Linked DNA regions of Homo sapiens: regions 2 and 3 are each linked to region 1. Evidence: fine-mapped expression QTL. A gene starts in region 1. Each other region holds a variant in brackets. All regions are shown on one strand. Distances are between the middles of the regions.

Region 1 (8,180 bases):
AGAATTCCCCATCCCTACCCAGAACAGCCACTCTCAGGCCATCCCCCGGGAGGCCCTGCTCAGGGGAGCGCTACCGCAGGGAGACAGCGACACCTAAAGGCAGCGCGCTGCACAGCGGGCCTTCGCTCCCGAGAGCCCCCAGAGAACAGGAATCCATCCACTCCCGGTGGGACCAGCCAGGAGACCCATCCCTAGGGGACAACAGAGAAGAACAGCAGGGATGGGCCTGGGGTACAGAAGGCTTCTTCGGGGCCCAGAGCAAAAGACGTGCCCTTCTCCCACTGACCAGACCTCTGCCACAGAACAGGAAGGCTGATGGATGTGGCCAGGCTGAGACAAGACCAGAGAAGAAATCAGACCGGAGTTTGAGGCCCGGCACTGGCTGGAGAGCTGTCCTCCACACAAGCTGAGGCAGCGTCTTTCTTCCCCGGCTTCAGCAGATTCCTACCTCCCTGAGCAGGACCCGCGTACAGCCGGGCCCCCCAAGAGCAGCTGAGTTGACACGGCCCCGCCTGTACCTGCGGCCCCCAGCCAGCCCGTGGGAGCCTCTGGAAGAATATAACCCTGGGCCCTCCACTGACTTAACCACCCCGCCTCCCCATAGGCTAATGCCCTCCCACCTTGACTGAACTGAAGGCTGCACTGTCATGGGGGCCTGGAAATGGAACTTCCTGGCTTCCTTAGCCTTCTGTAGGCACAGAATTCACCGCGTGCTTAAAGGTCAGAAGATTAGCCCAGGGGATTCAGGGCATAAGGACGCTTTTTTTGCTTGTCCTACAGTTGGGCCTAGAGCCCCACAGGATGATCCTTACACAATCTTAGGGAGGCTCCCGTGCCAGAACTGAGGGCTTCCCCCATCCTGCCACCTGGCACGTGTGGCCAGGCAACAGACACACTCTGCGAAGGGCCGGGGCATCCATTCACCAAACCATCCTTGACTCTTCTAGTTCATTCCATGACCCCCAGAACCAATCAAGCCCAGCCAGAGAAAGGAATCCCTGCAGCCTGCAGCCTTTAGCTAAGAATCCTAAGAGAGTGAAGGGCAGGGGGTGTCCTGGTGATGTTTCCAAATCCTAAATTAGGAGAAAACTTTGATCCATCAAGACACAGGGAGTAGCTGCTAGAGACACAGGGGTAGAGGGGGGTGGAGAAGCGACACAGGGCTACAATTGCCCTACTGCATCCAACATCCCACCAGAGCTAGAATGTGTGCTAGAAAGTCAGTCGGAAGTGGCCCCCTCTGGCCAGCCCAACACCCCCACCCGAGTCACTTTCCCCTTCTCCTTCTCTCCCTGGGTCAGCACTGGAGGTCAAGATACTGGGCAAGAAAGGCCTCTCTCTCCACCATGGGTTATCCAGCCCAGACCTCACTCAGAATCTCAGTAGGGGCACACCAAAGGCCTTTGCCCCCAGCTGAAATTGCCCACCAAGTCTCAAGCCCCAGAAAAACCTCCCCCGACCCTCCACCCACCCACCCAGTGGGATTTTCAACCAGCTTCCTGCCAGGAAAAGGGCCCCAGGGCTGAAGTTTCCTAAACACCAACCCATCCCTTCCTTTCCACTGGCCTAACCCAAAGCCTTTCAGTATCTGTGGTCACTCCACTCAGCCCAGCTTTAGAAGGGGACTTCTCGAGGGAAGGAAACTGAAGGGCTGTGGAGCAAGGGGATGCTGAGCCTGCTGCTCTTCTGCTCTCACCCCCGCCTCTCAACACTCAGCCTCCAGGGTTGCAGACATTGGGTTGGGCCTCTCTGGTCATCTCCCATGCACACACATACACACCCACCACGAGCAGGAACCCCAGCCACTTCTGAAAAGGAGAAAGGTGGACTCCTTAGCCTGCCCGGCTGGAGAAAGCCTGCCTGCAATGACCAGGGGCCCACACTGCTCTTCTCCAGCCCCCGACCACAGATGGTGCCCACACCTGGGAGCCCTGCCCATGCTGGGGTATGCAGCTCAGCAGTAGGCAATCTGGCTGTTTTGCCTGAAATACAATTTTTTTTTCACCTTGGCCCTGATCATGCTTGGACCCAGAAGGCTGGGTTTTCAAGCTAGCAGTGGGAGAAAAAGGTCAGATTTTATAGTAGCCCCTTCAGAATGAGAGTCCACTTGCCAGGGTTGACAGGAAGGGCTTCGGGATCACAGCGGGCCCAGAGCAACTTCCAGCTTCCTAGAGGAGCCCCTCCCACCCCAGAGAGAAGCTGCCTCTGGCTGAGGGAGGTAGGACCTCTGAGGCCACACCCTAGAGCAGGGACTTGCCCCCTTGGGGACTCGCACCTGGCGGGAAGCAGAGGGGACAGGCAGAGAGTCCAGAGCCTGTGTGGACACCCAATGACTCCGGTCCCCTATCCTAGTCTGGCGAGCACTTCTTAGACCACGCACATCCTCCTGTAACCAGCTCCTACCTCCCCACTCGTGGCCTTCCCAGATCCCCTACTGCAGGAGGGAGAGGGTGAGATCATGACCCCGCTGGGCAGCCTGGCTCAACACTGGCTACACAGCAAGCCAAGGTGGTAGAACTACACCCTCACTGAAGCAGACGTGTGCTCCTTACAAACACACTCACACACACACACACATACACAGTAGTTACCCGGCTCCCTCTATGGGAGCGTCTACTCCCTGGCAGCAGCCCTGCCTGGGACTCCCGGTGGTGCACAGCCTTGCAAACAACCGCCTTTCCTCACCTCCCTCCGGAGATTGCCATTTCCCAAGCAGCTGCGATTTCACCTAGCTTTAAAGGGAGAGAGGAGCTGGGAATTCTGTGTGGAAAAGAAACTGCGTGGGGCTCAGTGGCGCCAGGCAGCCTCTCCTCCCTGTCTTGGAGGCGGCGGGGGGGGCAGTGGGGGGGGTTTGCAGAAGGAGCAGTGGTCTTTGTTCAGACCCGTTTTTCCTCCCTCGCCTCCCACCCTCTTCAACGGAGAAAGCAAACTTTGGCCTCCCTCCCGCCTCTTCCCACCAGCCACGGGGGTCCGCGGCCCCCAGAGGTGGAGGAGGGAAGGCCGGGAACGGCTGCTCACAACCCTCCGCTCCCGCCCACCCATCTGGCTCGGGGCTCGGTGGGGAGAAACTTGAAAAGTGTTCCGGGGAGTGGAGCCGCCGGTTAGGGGCTCAGGGCGTGGGGACGCGGGCTCCGTTTGCCAGGCGCGGCTGGCAGGTGGGGAGTGACTGCCAGCGCTCCCCGCGCGATGTCCAAGCGGGAGCCGCCGGAGAAACCCGCGCCCTCCACCACGACCGACTCGGGGAGCAGACCAGGAAAGGCGGACCCCGCAGGACTGTTCTCTCCCCGCCTAGGAGCCTCTCTCTCCCTCCCTTCTTGCAGATCAAGAGTTGGATATTTTTTTTTCTTAAGTTGCCGCAATTCGAACCCATTATTTCGGGGGAGATGCGCGCTATACTGGCGTGTGAGCGAGCGCGGGTGTGTGTGTGCGTGCACAGTGTCTGCGGGGCTGGTTCGGATGTTGAGTCTCCCTCCCGATCCCCCTGCGTCGCCAGCCAGCCGCGGCTCCGGTCCCTCGTCCGCGTCCCTGCCGCCCGGCCCCGCTCGGTTCGCCAGCACCGGGCCCGGCTAGCTCCGCGGCGCGCTCTCCCCGCCGACCTCCCGCCAGCCCCCCACCGGCGCTCCGCTCGCCCCCCGCCTCCCCGGCTTCTCGCCTCCCCCTCGAGCTCGCCGCCCGCAGGTACTCACCTAGAAAGAAGAAGAGGCAGAAGACGTTTGCCAAGATCATGTTAAATAAATCCCACCGTTTTTTTGTCTTTCTCCCTTGGGTAAAAAAAAATAATAGTAGTAACAACAACAATAATAATAGGCAAGCAGTGGTAATCAGCCCCAAATCCAATGCGGAGATCCCAGCTAGTCCACCCGATGAAGATCCCGAGTCCTGCGATTCTCGCCTCTGGCTGGAGGGGGTGGGGTGAGAGGCGGGCGATGGGCTGCTGCCTCTCGACGCCCCCCTTGCCCGCTACAATCAAATATACGCGTATCTGTGTATCGGCTTTCTAAGCCAACAGCCCAGTCCTGGGGTCAGCCCTCCCCTCCAATCGTCCGGGAAGGCGTGAGTCCCCGCGGGTCCAATTCCCCTGCGCTTCCCAGGAGGGGCCTGGGGAGGTGGGGAGAGAGGCGATTTGCGAGTGAAGGGCTGGAAGGAAGCGGCGAGGGAGGGGGTCGGAATAAAATGCAAATAGAAAAGAAATCCACAGACGGGTGTCAGCGCCCAAGAACAATCCAGTCGGAGCTTCGAGGACGAGAGACTGGAGTCGCTTCTTTCGCACCAAGACGAAGACAAGATTCAAAAAAATCTTCTCCCGCTAACCCTTGCTCGGCTCACTTTTTTCTAATGGAATTCCAGTGACCGTGTGTCTCTGCGTGCGTGTGTCTTTCTCTCTCCTCTCTCTCTCTCTCCTCTCCCTCGCTCGCTCTTTGCTCTCGCTCTCTCCAGCTCTCCCTCGCTCTCCTCTCTCCCTCCCCCTTCTCCCACTCTCCCTGCTCCTCCCTCCGCCCGCCCCCTTCTCCCTTCGCGGCTCCCTCGCCCGGGCTCTCGCGCCAGCGCCCCTCTCCTCCGCCCCGGGCTCGGCGCTCGGGCTCCCAGGCGGCTGGCGGCGCGGGGCGCGGGGCGCGGGAGCGCGGCGGAGCTACGATGCTCTGCAGCGGCGGCGGCGACAAGGCGAAGGCGGTGGCGGTGGCGGTGGCGGCGGCGGCGGCGCCGGGGATCGCGGGCCGAGAGGAGAGCCCAGCCGCCGGCTCCCTCGGCTCAATCGCCCGCCCTTCCTGGGACTGACCTGCTGCCTTGGCCGGAAACTGACTGGCTCCCCCGGCTACGGCTCGGGCTCGAACCCACTCAAGCGTCGGCACCCTCCTCCTCCTCCCCCCGCAGCTCTCCCCACCCTGGGGACCGGCTGCGCCCTCCAACCCCCACTGCCCCTGCCCCCGCCCCCTGCGCCGCTGGGTCTGGGAAGCCTGGGGAGCTGAGCTGAGGCTGGAGGGCGCGGAGTCCGTGGGGCCCGAGCCATCCGGGGGCTCGGGGGGCAGGGCGTTAGAAAAACCCCAGCCGGTGGCCCGGGTCTGAGGGGGGCTCCACCCTCCGTGGGCTAAGGCGTCCCTGCGCCCAGGAGCCGAGGCCGACAAAGCGTCTCCCCGATGGTGCCAGGGAAAGGAATTATCCCCTTCGGCGCCGGCCCCGCGCGCCCCCGAACCCAACGCATCCTGCCGGCCCCGGCCTAGCCCCGCGCGCACATACACGTGTGCTCTCCGCGCGGACCTCGGGAACTTTGCCCTCACGCCCGCGGCGCGCTTGCCTCCCGCCCGCCCCGGCCTCCACCCCTTCGAGATGCCCCTTCCCCAGCCGGTCTCCCCTCCCCCCGGCTCGGGAAGAAGCCTGCTGGGCCAGGGCGCCCTGACCACCTCCTCGGAGGCCGGCAAACCTGCCTGAACCGCCCCAGAGGAATCGGGCAGGGGCTCGCACCCCACCCCGGCAGGAGGGCCCCGAGACCGACCCGGGCCGGGGCTCCGCAGCCGGCTGGGCTCCGAGGAGCTCGTCCCGAGGCAGCTCCCGGCTCCCTAGGCTCCGGGGTTGGGGGGTTCCTCCTCCCCTAGCCGGGAAGGGGGCGATTGATCCATCTGTCGGTGGGCCGGGCTCACCGGCGTGTTTTAGTCGCAGAATTTACAATAAACGCCCAGAAGGACCTAAAAGGAAGCGTCTGGCTGGGAAAGGGCTGGAGGAGAGGTGCGGCTGCGGTCACGTTCCGGCGAGAGCGGGAGAGGCGCGGGGTCGCGGTCGCGCGAGGGCTCACACCCACGCAGCCCGGCATCCCCCGGCCCTCGCGCCACGTTCCTCGCACTCAGCTCGGCGCGCACACACGGTGTCCTGGGGTGGGGTACACGCAGCGCCTCAGAAACTTTTCGTGCTGCCCAAAACAATCTGGGCTGCACGTAACATGAATTTGATAGTACCGTTTAAGATGCATTCTTAAATAACAAGACTCTGGAATCCAGTAAATGCTAGAAATCGACTTGGACGAGAAGGGAGGGGTCACTAACAAAACCAGCAGCCTTAGCTATTGGGAAAGCTAGAGGGAGCAACTTCCATCTTGAGGATTTAGGCGGGAAGGCGGCTGCTCCCGGCCTTGGAAGCACAGAGAGCGAGTCTCCTGTGAACGCCTCTTTCCTGTGGTCCGTCCTGGGGCATCGACCTTCCTCCCTCCATCTTCTCCCCCAGCCATCCAGTTGTGCCTGCTTCGAGCCTAGGCCCTAGCTGGGTAGTGACGAGTCTGGGACAGAGGGCTTAGGGATTGGAGTTGGGGAAAGCCCCCTTCAGGCCTGCCCTCCCTGTCATTCCTCCAAGCCTCTCATGTTCTAGGAAGTGACTTCGCATCTGACAAGGTCTCTTGGCTTTTTTTCCAAAAATTGGGGAGCATAAGGAACCGGCTTTGGATAAGTGTAGGTTAAAAGATAAAACTTGACAGGAATTACACTGCCAGGCAGGCTTGGCCTGGAGGCCCGAGGCTGGGAGCCTGGCCTAAATGAATGTCCCCCCTCTCATCTCCTCGACTTCCAGGGTCTTCTGGTTGTCCAAATACTCCCCACCACCACCCATTTCGGAATCTCACGCAGGCCTTCCCCCTTCCAAGGACCCTGCTCCAAACTCCAGAATTTCTGCTCAGCATATCCCTCTCCCCTTCCCCACAAAAAAGAATTTCACTTTCTTTTAACTTCATTTGAGCATAATGAGAGAAATTCTCTGAATCATATATGTAGTTCTCCCCTCCCACCTATCCAGAAAATGGGGCTGAGAAAGCAGCAATGAAGCCCTGGGGATGGTTCTCACTGAGCTCCCACGGGAGTAGGAAAGAGGATTCCGGTAGCAGGAGGTAAGTGGCCCTTCTGCGACCCAAGACCACCCAGCCATCCCAAGAACAGTAGAGAACACCAATCAGTCACCACCAGCATTCAGCTTGTGTGACTGCAGGGCACTCTGACCTTGGACCCTCTCTTACCTACTGCCTATACAGACGTATCCCATGACACCCCACCCTCTGCCCACCCCAACACTCAACCCAAACTGCTCTTAAAAATGGCATCATCCCTTATTTCCTGAGCATCTGCCATGAGGAAGACCCCCTGCCTTGTGCCGGGATCTACAGAGGAAACACAGTTGAACATGTACTATAACACCTTATAGATAAGAGGACTTCTGAACCTCAGTCATCTCATCTATAAAATGGGGATTAAAAAAGATAAACCAACGTTGTAGAAATTACATAAGATACTACACAAAGCGGCTAGTACAATGCCTGGCCCATATAAAGTTGTTTACTGCTTTGCTCTGGGTTCTAGAAGAAGAATTAGGGACCTATGACAAGGCAATAAAACCTAAGGGGCAAATGAGAAGCAGAAACAAAAAGCTACAGGGGTTCAAGGGCAACAGAGACTATTAAGCAGCTGTCGTAAGAGGTAGTCATAGGAAAATGTGAAGTCTCTAGCAGGTAGGAGGCAAGCCCTAGGCTCACCAACAGACTTCCACACATTCCGTAGTGCCTGAGTCCTTTTACAGCCTTCCTGGCTCATTCCAGTGCTCCTGAGTTCACCAGCAGCTGAGCCTCCTGCCCACAGCCCCTCCCCATCACAGATCCTAGAGTCCAAATCTGCATGGGGAGGGAAAGGCAACACCGAATCCTTCCATTCCTTCCCTTTCTCTTATCTCTCTAGTCCTCTCTGCTTATGGAGTGGGTTCTCTGGATAGCAGGAGAGGGAAGAAGGACCAGTGGAGGGGAGGGCGTTGCAGCCCCACCCCAACACACGCACACATGCGCACCTAGGCCTGGGCCACACTGCTCACTGACCACAATCTTATTCCTTTGTGAAGGGAAGAAGGCTGAGGGTTCCCTGACCCCAGAGATAAAAATCGACCAGGAGTGAAAAGAAGGTGCCTCACATCCAGCTAATACTGTCAGGAGCCACAGAACTGGCAAGGTGGAAGTGTCCTCTGCCATGGGACAGAGCCTGATCCAGGGCACCCCACAATCAATCCATCAGCACAGACTTATTGAACGACTTCTCTGGCCCCAGCAGGGCCAACGGCTGTGGGGAATACAGCAAGACTGCCCCTCCCCTGAAAGCATTTATAGAGTCAAGCGTGTAGCTATGAGAAGATACTGAAAAAAACAAAGGCACAGTGGGAGAAAG
Region 2 (8,180 bases), 100 kb after region 1:
GAATCTCTTGAACCTGGGAGATGAAGGTTGCAGTGAGCCGAGATTGCACCACTGCACTCCAGCCTGGGCAACAGAGCAAGTCTCTGTGCTCAAAAAAAAAAAAGAAAAGAAAAGAAAAAAAGAAAGGAAATTCTGGGCTGTGTGCTGTGGATCACATCTCCCAGCACTTTCGGAGGCCAAGGCTGGAAGACTGCTTGAGCCCAAGAGTTCAAGACCAGATTGGACAACACAGTGAGACCCCATCTCTAAAAAGTTTTTTTTCTTAATTAGCCTGGTGTGCACCTGTAAGTCCCAGCTACTCAGGAGGCTGGGGTGGGAGGATGGCTTGAGCCCAGAAGGTCGAGATTGCAGTGAGCTATGATTGCACCACTGCACTCCAGCCTGAGTGACAGAGTGAGACCCTGTCTCTAAAAATAAAATTTTCAAAAAAGGAAATCCTGACATATGCCATGACATTGATGAACCTTGAAGACATTATGCCAAGTCAAATAAGCCAGATGCAAAAGGACAAATACTGTATGATTCCACTTATATGAGGTCCCTACAGAAGTCAATTCACAGAGACAAACAGTAGAATGATGATTACCAGCAGCTGGAGGGAAGGAAATGGGAGTTGTTGCTTAATGGGTACTGAGATTCAGTTTGATATGATGGAAAGAGTAATGGAGATGGATGGTGGTGACTGCTGGGCATTATGAATGTATTTAATACCACCGAACTGAACACTTGAAAATGGTCAGGATGGGCTGGGCGCAGTGGCTCATGCCTATAATCCCAGCACTTTGGGAGGCTGAGGCAGGTAAATCACTTGTGGTCAGGAATTCAAGGCCAGCCTGGCCAACATGGTGAAACCCTGTCTCTACTAAAAATACAAAAATTAGCTGGGCATGGTGGCACGTGCCTGTAGTCCCAGCTACTCGGGACACTGAGGGAGGAGAATTGCTTGAACCCAGAAGGCGGAGGTTGCAGTGACCCGAGATTGTGCCACTGCACTCCAGCCTGGGTGACTGAGCGACACTTAGTCTCAAAAAAAAAAAAAAAAAAAAAAGTCAGGATGGTACATTGTATGTTGTGCATATTTTATTACAATAAAATAATGGAAAAAAAATAAGTCAGATTCCTGGCTTCTCTACTCAAACTCTTGCCTAGGCATTTAATATGGAATAAATCATTCTTACCCAGGTGGGACTGCCAGGACCCCCTGCCTCTCCATTCCTTTCCTGCCTCTTTCCTCTCGTCCACTCTGCCCCAGCCTCGCCGGCCTCCTCCCCTGTTGCAAGGGAAGCGTGAGGTGCTCCTCCTGTCCACTCGCCGCTCACTCCGCAGGGAATGTTCTCTCTCCCCTCAGCCTGGTTTATTTTTCTTCTTATCACTCTCACCACCTGGCATATCATCTGCTTCCCCTCCCCCGACCCTAGCACAGCTCTAGGAGAACAGGGACTTCTGCTGCTTCTGTTCATGAACGTGCTCAACAAGGGCCTGCCTGTCCCTCTGACATGGTCCTCCTGGAGCTGCAGCTGCCCCACTGTCTCAGGAGTACAGAATTTCCTCCTCCTCCCCAGTCCCCACACCTGGCCCACCCTTTCCCTTTGTTCTTCTGCCTGTGCTGCCAGTGACGAGCCTGTGAGACCAGACACTGAAGAGAGCAGACAACCAGGGACACAGGAGTCTTTGTCCCCAAAAGGATCTCAGTAAATGTTGGCTGCTTGTAAAGAATCTCTGCGGTGTTGATTTTGTGGTCAATGAGGGGCTGTTTGCTCCTCCTCAAGTGCACCCACCCCCACTTCAGGGCACCTACTGGCCCCAGAACCAAGTTACCAAAGGCCCATTTAGGCCCGAAGGATGCCACTTGCCTCTGAGAGATGAGGGGAGCTCACAGCCTCCTCGTAGCCCCATAATGCAGTATTTCCCCAAGGAGTCAGGTCTCACTGGTGGCCCTTGGACAGGCATTCAGTGGCATTGTCCACACCATGAAAAAGTTCTCCCTTTTCAATGCTTTTTCAAACACCCTGTCATGGGTTGAATTGGGTCCCCCGCAAAAACAGAGGTTGAAATCCTAACCCCTAATACTCAGAATATGACTTTATTTGGAAATATTATAGGATTGTTGCAGATGTCATTAGTTAAGGTGAAGCCAGACTGGAATAGGTAGACCCCTAAGCCAATAGGCCCATTGTCCTTATAATGAGAGGAGAGCCCTGTGAAGACAAAAGCACTCAAGGAGAGCTCGTGACCAGGAAGGCAGAGATTCCAGCTAAGGGGCTGCGAGCCAAGGAACACACAGAATTGTCAACCAAACACCAGAAGCTGTGACAGCCAAGGAGGGATTCTCTCCTACGGTTCTCAGAAAGTGATGGCCTGCTGACACTTGGATTTTAGAATTCTAGTGTCTAGAACTGTGAGACAACAAATGTTTGTAGTTTCAAGCCACCCAGTCCATGGCAAACCTGGGAAGCCAATACAGACCCTAATGACCTCAGGGAGGAAGTCTCACTTGGGGGCTTGCGGGTTTTTCATGCCTTTCTGATACTTGCTAATTTTCCTTTTTGCAAAGAGAAAACAGTCCACAGGCTAAGAGCTTTCAGCAAGAGAGGCACCAAACTAAATTTTAATAACCTTGTTTGGATTCCATTGTATGTATTTGTATGATTACCATCGATTTCTAACAAGTGATAACAGGTTTTCCTTGCACAACAGTAAAACAAATTTCCTTTTCAAAGAAATAAACCAAGTTTAAAAATGAGTTAATTTAATGAAAAAATATTATGTCACATTAATAGAACTGGCGAGAAAACATGGCAAAAATAGTGAATGTGGGGAAGGTAACTAAAGTTTTTCATATGCCATCTTGAAGAAATCCAAGACCAGATAGCCACTGCGCCTCTTCCTTTCATGTCCCAGATCATAAATGCAAAAGATTAAAATGAAAATGACAACATATACAATGATTAGAAAAAGTACAAAGTGGGCAAAATTATTTGCACATTGGTCTTACCTTTTTCCCGTCTTCTCCCCTTCTCATTTGCCTTCCCTCACCTGGAGGCCCAGGACCTGCATCCAGCCAGGCTTCTTCCTGTCTCCAAAGAAAACCGATATGGCCGGGCACTGTGGCTCACACCTGTAATCTCAGCGCTTTAGGAGGCCAAGGCTGGAGGATCACTTTAGCCCAGGAGTTCAAGACCAGCCTGGGAAGCACAAGGAGACCTCTCTCTACCAAAAATTTTAAAATTAGCCAGACACGGTGGCACATACCTGCAAGTCCTAGCTGCTCAGGAGATTGAGATAGGAGGAGGATTGTGGAGCCAGGGAGTTCCAAGGCTGCATTGAGCTATGACTGCACCACTACACTCCAGCCTGGACAACAGAGTGAAATGAAAGAAAGAGAGAGAGAAAGAGAAAGAAGGAGAGAGAGAAAGAAAGAAGGAAGGAAAGAAAGAAAGAAAAAGAAAGAAAGAGAAAGGAAAGAAGGAAGGAAGGAAGGACAAAGAAAGAAAGAAAGAAAGAAAGAAAGAAAGAAAGAAAGAAAGAAGGAAAGAAAAAGAATGAAAGAAAAAAAGAGAGAAAGAAAGAGAGAGAAAGAGCGAGGGAGGGAGGGAGGGAGGGAAGGAAGGAAGGAAGGACAAAGAAAGAAAGAAAGAAAGAAAGAGAATGAAAGAAAGAAAAAAGAGAGAAAGAAAGAAAGAGCGAGGGAGGGAGGGAAGGAAGGAGAGAGAAAGGGAGAAAGAGAGAGAGAGGAAAAGAAAAGGAAAGCAAATCTGATAAACTAGCCTCCACTGAGCTTGCAGTTAGAGAACTCAGTGACAGCCCCATCATTGTCACTAACGTGATGAGTGACTTTGGGCAAATCCCTTAGTCTCTCTAGACTTCAGTTTCCTCTCTACAAGAGAAGATAAGACAACAGGGTATCTTTTTGCTCAGAATTCTATGCTTCTGGGATGTTAGCAATTTAATGTGTTCCCCTCTTAGGGACTCACATTACACTTTAAAAAAGACTTTAGTAAAAAGATGAATAAATTCA[G/A]AGGAATGAGCCCCCAAAAGTGAAATTCCAGGTTTAGTGGCATGTGGGGGAGAGAGATTTTTTAGGATGGTTGGGTGAGGCAGTTGTAAAATCACACAGTCAGCAACCAGTAACTGCTGCCTCTGCATGAGGCCGGCTTCACCTCCAGATGGTAGGCCTACCGCTGTCTCAGACCCCCTCGGGCCCCACGAGGCCTGCCCTGACCCCTTGGGTGGCCTTCCATTCCATCAGGAATCAGGAAATCATATCTCTGATAGGGATAAATACTGCATTTTTAATTTTTGAAAAGCAAAATATAGGTATTTATTTACATTCATGTCCGTGTATACACACACACACACACACACACACACACACACACACACAAACACAGTTGGCGACAGGAAAGGGCCAAGAAGAAAAATCAGCTTTGACAACCTAATAAATGTCAATTTCTGAAGGGGGCTGAGTTAGAAGATGAATCCTCAGAACTTTAATTGGAGACATGATGCTCTCACTTTGCCAGCACCCCCACCTCTCCCGATCCCTCCACAGATAGCAAAGCCCTTGCCTTCCTCTAATTGACAAGAGGCCTCTGTCTGCTAGGATTTGCCTCTGGGATGTCAAGAGGCCCAGGGATGGGGTGAAGGTGGTGCTCTAATGCCCTTCAGAGAGAAGAGGTGAAATAGCAGGATTTGTGTCCCAAAGGCAGACAGCCCAATGGGCTGAGCAGTCACAGATTTGCCCTACGCTGTGCCTGCCCTACGTGAGACCCTGCAGAGACAAAGGGGTCCCCCCTGACTAGTGATGCTTGCTTTCCACCTAACAGCAAGTCAGGAGGCTCCCTTTGGATCCCCGGTGGTACCCTAATCCAGGCACAGTGGGAGAAAGGGAAAGCACGTGGGGGAGGTGGTGGTGTGTGGTGGTTGAGAGGATCGCTCCCCAGCCCGGCTGCCTAGAGTCACCACCAACTGCTGATCTTTGGGTCAAGTGTTTGACTCTTCTGTGCCTCAGTTTTATCATCTGTGAAAAGGAGACCATCACAGCACCTGCCTGAATGCATTGTGAGAGGATCAGATGGGTTAATCAGGGTGCAGCAGCCACACACACTCATGCCCAACAGGAGACTTAATGGTAACAGCTCTTCAGCTCAGCACAGCTGCCAGAGCTTTGGAGCCAGCACTCCTGGGCAAACTGTGGAGTCTCAGCACCATCACCCAAACAAGCTGCATGTCATGCGTGAGACAGTTCAGCTGTGACAGGCAGCCATCACAGTGATCGAGCTGGGCAGGAGAAGCAGTCATGGCCACCAACACCTGGCCCACCACTGCATTCTGACCATCACTTTCTAGTAAAACACCGAGGACCACTTTTCTTTTGAGATCCCCACTCTAACTTCTGCCCCTCCAGAACCCACAAGCATTCTCCTTTTGGCCTCCTACAGACTGTAATCTTAGCCATACAATTTAGCTCATTTTTATATTAGTAATAGTTCAAGTAACTAGCATCTGCACAGTGCTTTGCAGTTTACAAAGGAATGTTTAGTTTACATTTTTGAATTGTTAGTACACTGACATGGCTCAAAATTTAGAAATCTGTATTAAAAGGCAGTTAAGAGTCTCCCTGTTACTCTCATCTCCTATCCTTCCCGACCCCAGCCTCGGCACCCACAGGTAACCACTGTTTTTACTTCCTCAGAGATCCTTCTAGAGTTTCATTCTGTATGCATGAGTAAATATTTCTATTTCCCCTCTTTTTATTTTATTTTATTTTTTTGGAGATGGAATCCCACTACATTGCCCAGGCTGGTCTCCAATTTCTGGCCTTAAACGATCTTCCCTCCTCAGCCTCCCAAAGTGCTGGGATTATAGGTGTGAGCCACTGCACCTGGCCTCTCTGCTTTTTAAACACAAAATGTAGCATGCTATCTATACACACTGTTCTGTGCCTTGCTTTTCTTCATTTGATGGTATGTCTTATACACAAGTACAAAGCTTTCTGTCTCCTTCCTTTTTATAGCTGCATAATACTCCATTGTGTGGGAAAACAAAATATCTTAAAGAGAACCCTCTTACCCAGCATTTACGTTCTTTTCAATATTTTCCCATCACAAACATTCTGTAACAAGTAGCCATAAACAAATCCTTTGCACTTACGCAAATGTATTTATAGGACAATTTCCCAGAAATGGATTGCTAGGTCAGAAGATATGTACATTTAAACCGTGGATAGATATTGCCAAACTGCCCTCCCTAGAGGTTATACACATTTATCTTCCCATGAGAGATAGGAGACTATCTATTTCCTTACAACTCCACTATAACTGTGTTACCAACTTCCTGGACTTTCTCCAATTGGATAGGTGAAAAAGTTGCTTATTGGTGTAATTTTAATTTACATTTCTCTTATTTTCAATGAGGTTCAGCGTGCTTATATACATTTAAGAGCTATTTGTATTTCCTTACCCTAAATGTACTTTGCTAGCCGTTTATCTCCTTTATCTTCGCAATCCCCCAGTGAGAAATGTGAGGTAAGTATTAATAATATCTGCATTTTAAAATGATAGAGCTAAGACTCGAAGCATTTAAGATACTGGCTTAAAGCCTAGGCTGGTATGGCAGGGGCGAAATACCATCTTGCATTTTTTTCTGATTGTTTTATGTTTGGGATATTCCCAATTGAGTGGTGCATTTCTTATCTGCCTTCAAATCGTCCCCATGAACCTAGAACGGCGCTAAGATGTAGCAAAAGAGTGAGCCAGGGGACCATGGGTCCCTAGCCCTGGTTTCTTGCTGTGGCTCTGTGAGTTACTGGCTGTCTGCCTCTGGTCAAGTCCCTTGACTCTTTCCCTGGAGAAGACTCTTTATGGGCGGACTTTCCATATCTGTAAAGCCAGGATTTGAACTAAATCACCAAAGTCCCTTCCAGGAAATGATTACAGTGGGAAGCACTCCATGAGTCTTTTATTATTATTTCTTTTTGAGCAGAGGAAATAAAACCGTTTTCAGACCTCCCAAGATGAGAATGTTCAAATCATACCCGTTTATGTGAATGCAGTCTAATCAGAGGCGGTGAGTGAGGCAGCAATGGGAAGGGATTAGGGGGTCTTCAGGCAGTATTGCAAAGTGGGGAGGCTGTCACAGTGGTATACTACAGTCTGCCTGTACTGAGAGCCGACTGCAAGATCTTTTAGGAGTTTTGTAAGCCAATTGACATCCCATTGATAGCTTGAAATAGGCCACGGTGGGAATATTTACACCATGGAAATCAGTAAATGCTACATGTGATAGCATTCCCATCTCCCACACCCAGAGCCAGTTGTTCACCAGTATTCAGCTGCCATCACATCGCTCCCCGAGGATCTACAAAAAGCCATAAGCGGCCGGGCTCAGTGGCTCACGCCTGTAATCCCAACACTTTGGGAGGCCAAGGCGGGAGGATCACCTGAGGTCGGGAGTTCAAGACCAGCCTGATCAACGTGGAGAAACCCCATCTCTACTAAAAATACAAAATTAGCCGGGCGTGGTGGTGCATGCCTGTAATTCCAGCTACTCAGGAGGCTGAGACAGGAGAATTGCTTGAACCCAAGAGGCAGAGGTTGCAGTGAGCCGAGATCGCGCCATTGCACTCCAGCCTGGGCAACAAGAGCGAAACTCCATCTCAGAAAAAAAAAAAAAAAGTCTTAAGCAACAGGAGCACTGGAGAATTGACAGGACTGTCGGGGAGCATGAAGGGTTCTGGGAGTGAGAAGAGCTCACACAGGCCAGAACCCTGCTCAGACAGGGGCCACTGGGCCACACCCTACCTTAGCCAGGAAATCAGTAGACCCCAGCAGTCCACGTCACCTCCAAGGGTAAGAGCACTGACCCCAGAGCAAACTGCAGGGTTTCCAAATCCCTGCTGCCCACATAGAAGCTCTGTGACCTTCAATAAGTTGCTGAAGTGTCATGTCTCAGGCTCCCCATCTGGAAAATGGGGACGTAATAGCCATTATCCCTACCTCAAGGGGTTTTTGTGAAAATTAACGAGTTAACACATAGGATGCATTTAGAACAGTAAACGTCTGGCATGATCAAATGCTCAGTAAGCAATTGCTATTGTTATTCTTTTACTAGAACCACAGGGTAAGACTGCACTGAGAGTCCTGGGGGCCAGGTTTCTGGTCCTCCCTCTGTAGCTGTGG
Region 3 (8,172 bases), 120 kb after region 1:
CACCAAGCAGGCCCCAACTGCAGGTCCTGCTCTAGACCATTCTCACCCTCTGGGGGCCCTGGAGACCTCATTCACTCCAGTGATGCCTCACCCCACGGCATCTGCATTTTAAAAGAAGCCTGCTAGGAGAGGGAAGGCACTCTTCCCAAAATGTAAATGGTGGGATTCTTGGCATCTGTAGGGGTGTATTTATGGAGAGAGAGTCCTCCAGAGCACCACAGCTCATTACACACTGGAGATCACCTGTGTTCCTCAAAGGCAAAGTGGGCTTCGTTTATTTTTCCAATCAAGAAACAGTTATTTGTACCTACCTAGTGCCAGGCATTGTGTTAAGTGTCAAGGATAGAACAATGGACTGGGTAAAGTATGAACCCTGCCCTTTGAACATTTGCAGTCTAGTAGGAGAGATGGCAAACTCCTTCTGAATGTTCTCTTGGCTCCTTTCTGCCCACCCCCTCCCCAGCTTCCTCCTCTCAGAACTGTTACTGTTCCCAGGGCTCCTCTGGCTGGCTGCAGGGCAGCGGCCCCAGGGGTCTGCATTGATCACATCAGTTGGTGAGCCCTGCCAAATGAACCAGGTACTTCTGCCCAGCAAGGAACCTGCCTCTGCACCCCGATGAGCCACCTGCTGCACCGTGCATGGATGTGGCAGCTCAGATGAAAGGAGGAAAGCCCCCGCTGTGGCTGCCTGTTCTCCAGCCTTGCCTGAAGCCAAAGGTCTTCTAGTCTACGAAGCATCTTCCCTTCCCGGCTCCCCCATTCCTGGGCATAATAGGCCACTCGAGCATTGCTCTGCCCTGGTGTGCAAATTTGCCCCCGCTAAAGCCCCCATGTCCAGCAGCTGAAAAGCTATTCATGCTGCTCTCTTCACCTCTCCTGAAATACTCTTCCGCTTTTGTGCTTTCCTATCAAAAGCCTAGCTCCTTCCCAACCAAGTCCTTCCACCCGCAAAGCCTCAGTTCACCCTCCAAAGACAAGGAGGTCTCTGCTCCTCTATGCCTCCATTGCCTTGTTGGTAAGACAGGGATTTCTTGCCTTGCCCACCTGGCAGAGCTGTTGAAGGTGAAATGAGATCATGGATAATCCCGGAGCTCTGTGTGTGGCAGGCACTCTTCTCCGAGCTGGGCATTTATTCACTCAATTTCATCCTCACCACAAGCCTTCAAGACACATATTATCATCATCTCCATTTTTCACATGTGGAAACAGATGCAGCTACCCAGAGACACAGCTAGCAAGTTGCAGAAGCAGAATCTGGACCCAGATAGTCAGGCTATGGTCTGTGTGCTTAACAGTCCACGCTCAACTGCCCCCAAAGCAGTTTGGAAACAGAAAGCGCTGTATAAACTCAAGAACATTCTTATCATCCTAAATGCTGGCGCCCCCTCCGGCACACCTTTCACTCCACCCCACCCACCCCTCCCCGATCAAACACCTGGACGCACAAGGCCAACCCCGCCCTGGATGCAGGTCCCCGAATTACTTAGCAGAGCACTGAGACCCCATCTCCCTCACAAGTCTGTCAGAACCCAGTGCTTCCCAGTCTGTTGCCCTACTCCGCCCCCGACCAGCCATCTCTGGCTCAGGGATCCAGGAGCTAGAGTCAAGAAGAGGGTTCTGACCAGGTATAGTGCCTCACACCTATAATCCCAGCATTTTGGGAGGCTGAAGCTGGTGAATGGCTTGAGCTCAGGAGTTTGAGACCAGCCTGGGCAACATGGAAAAACCCCGTCGCTACAAAAAAATACAAAAAATTAGCTGGGTGTGGTGCATAGCTGAGTATGGTTGGCAGGTCTGTCCTGTAGCCCCAGCTACTTGGGAGGCTGAGGTAGGAGGATCACCTGAGCCCCGGAGGTCAAAGTTGCAGTGAGCCGAGATCACACCACTGCACTCCAGCCTGTGTGACAAAGCGAGACCCTGTCTCAAAAAAATAAAAAGCAGGCCGGGCGCGATGGCTCACGCCTGTAATCCCAGCACTTTGGAAGGCCGAGGTGGGTGGACAACCTGAGGTCAGGAGTTCGAGATCAGCCTGACCAACATGGTGAAACCCCATCTCTACCAAAAATACAAAATTAGCCGAGCGTGGTGGTGCATGCCCGTAATCCCAGCTACTCGGGAGGCTGAGGCAGGAGAATCACTTGAACCCAGGAGGCAGAGGTTGCGGTGAGTCAAAATCATGCCATTGCACTCCAGCCTGGACAACAAGAGCAAAACTCCATCAAAAAAAAAAAAAAAAAAAAAAAAAAAAAAAAGCACAGGGTTCCAGAGGTGGCAGGGAGGCAAGGAGGAGAGAAGCAGGCCTGGCCAGAGCCTGGAGATTGATGGGTTCTGCTCCATGCTGGCCGGCATTGGATCCGCCCGGGAGCTGAAGATGGGAGCAGGGCAATGATGAACAGCCTCCTGCCATGGGGAAACCAGCTTGAGGCCTAATCAGATCAGATACCCCCTCCCAGCTCCTCTGGCTCCTCTCCCTCCTCCTCACAGCTCACGGACCTCCCGCACTTACTTCCCAGCCCTGTCCTGCCTGAGGTCTCCAGCCACCCCAGCTGGTTTTATAAATGGCCCTTGCAGGCTGTGGGCACCTTGGCTAATTGAGTCTGCACCCACGAGGCAGGAGGCAGGAGGCTGGTTAGCATCACGGATGAAAGGCAGTGACAGCAAAAACTTGACTGGAGTCGTCAGGGAGGAGCCTGCGGGAGCAGAGAGAGCCAAGGAGCTGGGCCTTTGTAGATTCTGAAGCTCCAGGGGGAGAACTCACGAGGTGGGGAGTGGGGGGCGGCCTGGCCACCCCCACTGTCACAGGCTTACACCATGGACCACAGGCCAACACACACACACACACACACACACACACACACACACACCCCACTTCTCTGCTTTGGAAAAAGAAAATCCAAGGGGAGGCAAGAGAAGCAGAGCAGAAAAGGAACGGGAAAAATGATGTTGTGTGCTGCGTGCGCACATCTCTATGCTAGATGCCAGTCATGCAGCCATCCTTACCTGCCCCGATGTCACCTCTGCATAATAACTAGCAATGAAACCAGTTTATAAGAATCCTGGTCACAGCAAACCTCATGGTGTCAACAGCTGTCTGACTTCGGACCTTGGAGCCTTCAAGAGGCCCTTCTGGGTGGATCAATCACTTGCTGTGACATTGCCCTGTCCCCTTTTGAGGGCAGCTGTTTCCTTACATATGAATTTGCCCCTGAGCATCCTGGTGGCATAGAAACCCTCCAAGGAGGCCCGGCGTGGTGGCTCACGTCTGTAATCCCAGCACTTTGGGAGGCCGAGGCAGGTGGATCACCTGAAGGCAGGAGTTCCAGCCCAGCCCGGCCAACATGGTAAAATCCCGTCTCTACTAAAAATACAAAAAATTAGCCAGGTGTGGTGGCGGGTGCCTGTAATCCCAGCTACCCAGGAGGCAGAGGCAGGAGAATTGCTTGAACCTGGGATGTGGAGGTTGCAGTGAGCCGAGATCTTACTGTTGCACTCCAGCTTGGGCTACAAGAGCGAAACTCCATCTCAAAAAAAAAGAAAAGAAAGAAAGAAAAGAACCCTCCAAGGAGGCCCTCACCACCGTGTGTCTGTTTGAGAAGGGTGATCCCTCAAGCAAGCTCCTTCATTCCTGTGTTCAGTGAACATCTGCCTGCCCACTCCACACTGTAGGCCCCTCGAGGGTGGGATGGGTCTGTGCTGCTCCCCAGCTCCTAGGCGGGACTGGTCCATGACAGATGCTCCAGGGCATTTGCTTTTTTGTTGTTTTTGTTTTTGAGATAGGGTCTCACTCTGTCCCCCAGGCTGCTGTGCAGTGGCTCAATCACAGCTCACTACAGCCTCAACCTCCTGGGCTCAAGCAGTATTCCCACCTCAGCCTCCCAAGTAGCTGGGGCTACAAACAAGCACCACCATACTCAGCTAATTTTTAATTTTTCTGTAGAGATAGAGTTTCCCTATGTTGTCCAGACTGGTCTCAAACTGCTGGGCTCAGGCAATCCTCCCACCTCGGCCTCCCAAAGCACTGAAATTACAGGCATGAGCCACCATGCCTGGCCCATGACATTTGTTGAATGAAGGAAGGTACACATTACAGATGACCATGGCGCAGCTGAGGCTGGCTGTAGTGGCACTGACACCATTCTCTGGAGGGTGGCACACCCCTTGGATCAAATCTTCTGAGAGCGACCCTGATGGCATGATCAGCATTTTCTCAACAACTGTCTTAAGGACTTTCATTACCCCTCCCAACTTCCCCAAAAGCTACTTCCCCTGTCCCTCCAGCCCTCACCCCACCTTTCCCAAGGGCCCTAATCAACCACTTCCCCTTGCATGGCACAGA[A/G]AGCATTAGTATGGAAGAACCCAAGTCCCTAGATCTGGAAAGTGGCGAGAGGGGACGAAAGGGCAATGTCCAGCTTAGGACCCCAAACTTCTTGAAGGCAGGGTCCACACATCTGGGAGTGGGATTCTGAGGCTCTGAAGGGACAAGCTCTGACATGCAGATTCCTCAGATTATCCCCAAGCCCTTCGGGTAGTAAATGCCTTCCTTCAGGGCCAAGCCCCCAAGGCTGGTGGTGGCAAAGCCCCCCAGTGGCCTTTTCCACAGGCTAACACCGCCCCCTGCCGGGCTAAGCCAGGACAGCCACTTCAAATGCCACCTTAGGAAATCGGAAACGTGGCTACCTTGCCAAAGAGAAACCCCAACTCCCACTGCTGGCCTGAAGAGGGGGAAGAGTAAAATCCTTGGAAGTGGGGCCTTCCAGCCTTTAGTGATCCAGAGGCTGGAAAGGGAGGGTACCAGGGGGCACCTTCCACACAGACAGGAAGGCCCCTCACTGGGTCTCTCCAAGCAGCTGATCCATTGCTCAAGTTCCTTCAACAAGGGAAAAGGCCACGGTGAGAGGAGAAACAGAGGTCACAGCACACCTGGGAGGCCAACGTCCATGTCTAAGTCTACGCCCCTCTCCCTCCTAAGCGCTAGCTCTCCCACCCAGCTTCAGGACTCGTCTTGCCGGATCAATACTAGCCATCTCCATCTCATCGCATCAGAAACTAAGTTCATCTTGTTCCCAAATCCTGAGTCTCAGGCCGGGCACGGTGGCTCACGCCTGTAATCCCAACACTTTAGGAGGCGAGGTGGGCAGATCACTTGAGGTCAGGAGTTTGAGACCAGCCTGGCCAACATGGTGAAATCCCGTCTCTACTAAAAAAAAATACAAAAATTAGCCTGGCGTGGTGGCTCACACCTGTAATCCCAGCATTTTGGGAGGCTGAGGTGGGCAGATTACCTGAGGTCAGGAGTTTGAGACCAGCCTGGCCAACATGGTGGAACCCCATATCTACTAAAAATACAAAAAATTAGCCGGGTGTGGTGGTGCACGCCTGCAGTCCCAGCTACTCGGGAGGCTGAGGTGGGAGAATTGCTGAACCCGGGAGGCTGAGATTTCAGTGAGCCGAGATCACACCACTACAGTCCAGCGTAGGTGACAGAGTGAGATTCTATCTCAGGAGGAAAAACAAACAAACAAAAAAAAACCCGAGTCTCTCTAGAAACCCTCTTTCTCTGTGTTCCACATCCACTATGAGTCCAAGATCCACAGGTGCTAGCTCTACACCATCTTTTGAATCCAGTCCTTTCTGAACTTCTCCCTTTCCCACTTTTCTTGAGCCAGGGTCTTGCTCTGTTGCACAGGCTAAATGATTCTCCAGCCTCAGCCTCCCAAGTAGCTGGGACTACAAGTATGCACCGCCACACCTGGCTAAGTTTGTTTGTTGGTTTGTTTGTTTTTATAGAGACGCGGTCTCATCACTATGTTGCCCAGGTTGGTTTCGAATTCCTGGGCTCAAGTGATCCTCCCACTTTGGCCTCCCAAGTTGCTGGGATCACAGGTGTGAGCCACGGTGCCCAGATGAATTTCCCCTTTTCTTTTTCTTTTTCTTTTTCTTTTTTTTTTTTTTTTGAGACGGAGTCCTGCTCTGTCACCCAGTAGGGTGCAGTGGTGCAATCTCAGCTCACTGCAAGCAATTCTCCTGCCTCAGCCTCCCAAGTAGCTGGGATTACATGTGCCCACCACCATGCCCAGCTAATTTTTGTATTTTTAGTACAGATGGGGTTTCACCATCTTGGACAGGCTGGTGTTGAACTCCCGACCTCATGATCAACCCTCCTCGGCCTCCCAAAGTGCTGGGATTGCAGGTGTAAGCCACCGTGCCTGGCAGAATTTCCCCTTTTCAATTCAGCCCCAACCTACCCCCTCCCACCCCAAGTCCACCTTCCACAGGGCTATCGGGTTATTGCCCTAAAGCTCAGCTTTTATGGGACTCCCTGTTCAAAAGCCTTTAGTCGTTCCACCTTTCCCTCTAATTAGGTACAAATTCCCCTTAATACAGTCAGAATCTGCCTTCCCAACTAGATTGTGTCACCTTACCCGCACTCTGAGCGTAGAACTCCGTCCCGAAAGCAACACATCCGTACCTCCCCGTGGTTTCACCTACACTCCCATTCCTATCCAAGATGCTCCTTCACACCCCCTTTATCTCCATGGAACTCCTTCCCACCCGTAAATGCCCACCTTAAATGGTACCTTTGATATGAAGCCTTTCTTGCGCTCCCAACAAATAGTTACCTCTCTGGCACTCATGGCCCTGTCTGGTCCCTTGTGGCACTCACACCCACTCTGTGACAGACACCTGTGCCTTGTTTCATCTCATCCCCTTCTGGGCAGTGTGTCTCTCACAGGCCATGCAGTCTACAGCCTCCCACAAACAGTGCCCATGCTGTCGGCGGACTGGGTTGATAGCTGAAGTCCATGGACACACCCTACTGGGAAAGCAGGTTTTGATAAGAGGAGCAAGCACAAGGACACAGGCTGACCTGTGGGGAAATGGTGTGTGGGGACCTAGGAACCCAGAGCCAATGGGAATCACAGAGCTGGATGGCTCCTCCTTGCCCACATGGGGCAACCCCCTCATTTTATGAAGATGTGCAGAAATCTCAGGGAAGCGAAAGGGCCCAGGACCACACACCTGGTGACTCCCACTCCTGGTGTACAAGAGGCTCCATCAATCCAATTATTTCCTTCCTTGCACTTTGGCTCGCCCCCCGCTCCCCCGTGCTTCCCCCACCATTTTTCTGACATTGACCTTCTCCCAGCAAAAGGGAGACATACTTGAACACTATTCCCAGGGCACCCTGACTGACTTCTAGAGGCCTCTGTGAGCAGATGCTTGGGGCTCAGCCTAGGCCCCAGGGGGATCTTGCAGCTGGGAGAGGATGTGATCAAGGTTGGTCAGTTGGAGACTTCACTCCCACAGCATTCATGCCACACAGAAATGTTCTGAAAATGCTTTAATGCCACCAAGAAATCTGAAAGGTGCAGGAAGCTGCCGCCATCCCCCTGGGTGCCTGGGCCCAGGCTGTCCCTGAAGTGGCCATCAGCAGGCAGGAGGCTTGCATAGCCAAGCAGCCCAAGCAATTGCTGACATCCTTTTGTCCTCTGCCCTAAATGCCCCAGGTTCCTCCTCAGCTGGGGAAAGAAAGAGGAGGAAGTGGAAAAAGAGTAGGAGGAGGGTGGTTCTCTCCAGGGCACCCTTCCTGCTTTGGGATGGTGACTCACCCAGCAGGCCCTGGGAGAGGCAATTTATCAGCCCCAACGAAGACAGGCCAGGCCTCGGGCTCCAGAAGGGGCAGAGGAGGTTCTTCTGATGCAGTGGCCAGGAGGAGTCACCAGCAGAAGCCAAGGGGCGGTGGACCATCCCTCTGCTGCCTCTGTCACTTTGGGCCTTTCTTTAGTACAACATTGTCATACTCAGTTCCTGGCTGCCAGCCAGAAGCAGAGAAATCCTGCCCGGCTGGCTGGACATGCTGGAGGCCAGCAGGGTCCCTGTCAGCTGTCGCCTGCCTCCTCCATGCCTCACCCCGGGGCTCCTGCGGGCTGTCATAGAGGGACAGGGCAGCCACTCCCTCGGGCTCATCGTATATGTGGTCAGGTCGAGGGGGCAGGGTCTCCTCAATGCTGTCGTACAGAGGGTCGGCCAGGAGCTGAGGAGGGACTGCCAAGATGCCCCTGAAGTTCTTCCCCAAGGAACGGGCCACCGCATCGAAGGGCACGGCATACTCCCCCTCCTGGCCCCGAGGCCGTGGAGCAGGCACCGGTGTGGTGGGTGAAGGCGGCGGCA

Evidence for each region. PIP is the estimated chance that this variant, and not a neighbour inherited with it, causes the effect.
Region 2: its variant is fine-mapped to the expression of GFRA2 in whole blood (TOPMed, PIP 0.98).
Region 3: its variant is fine-mapped to the expression of GFRA2 in whole blood (INTERVAL, PIP above 0.99).

The regions. Positions count from the first base shown.
Region 1 is chr8:21,784,434-21,792,613 of GRCh38, forward strand. GFRA2 (GDNF family receptor alpha 2) reads right to left here and starts at 4,442. Exons shown (of 9, transcript NM_001495.5): 1 at 3,687-4,442. The coding sequence starts at 3,726.
Region 2 is chr8:21,884,521-21,892,700 of GRCh38, forward strand. No RefSeq gene overlaps it. Among named protein-coding and RNA genes, the nearest start is that of DOK2, 25 kb to the right of the region's middle. The variant G/A (reference allele first, on the strand shown) is at 4,019.
Region 3 is chr8:21,901,546-21,909,717 of GRCh38, forward strand. It overlaps DOK2 (docking protein 2), which reads right to left. Exons shown (of 5, transcript NM_003974.4): 5 at 7,328-8,172. The coding sequence ends at 7,766. Among named protein-coding and RNA genes, the nearest start is that of DOK2, 8.1 kb to the right of the region's middle. RefSeq lists an enhancer at 2,314-3,142. The variant A/G (reference allele first, on the strand shown) is at 4,337.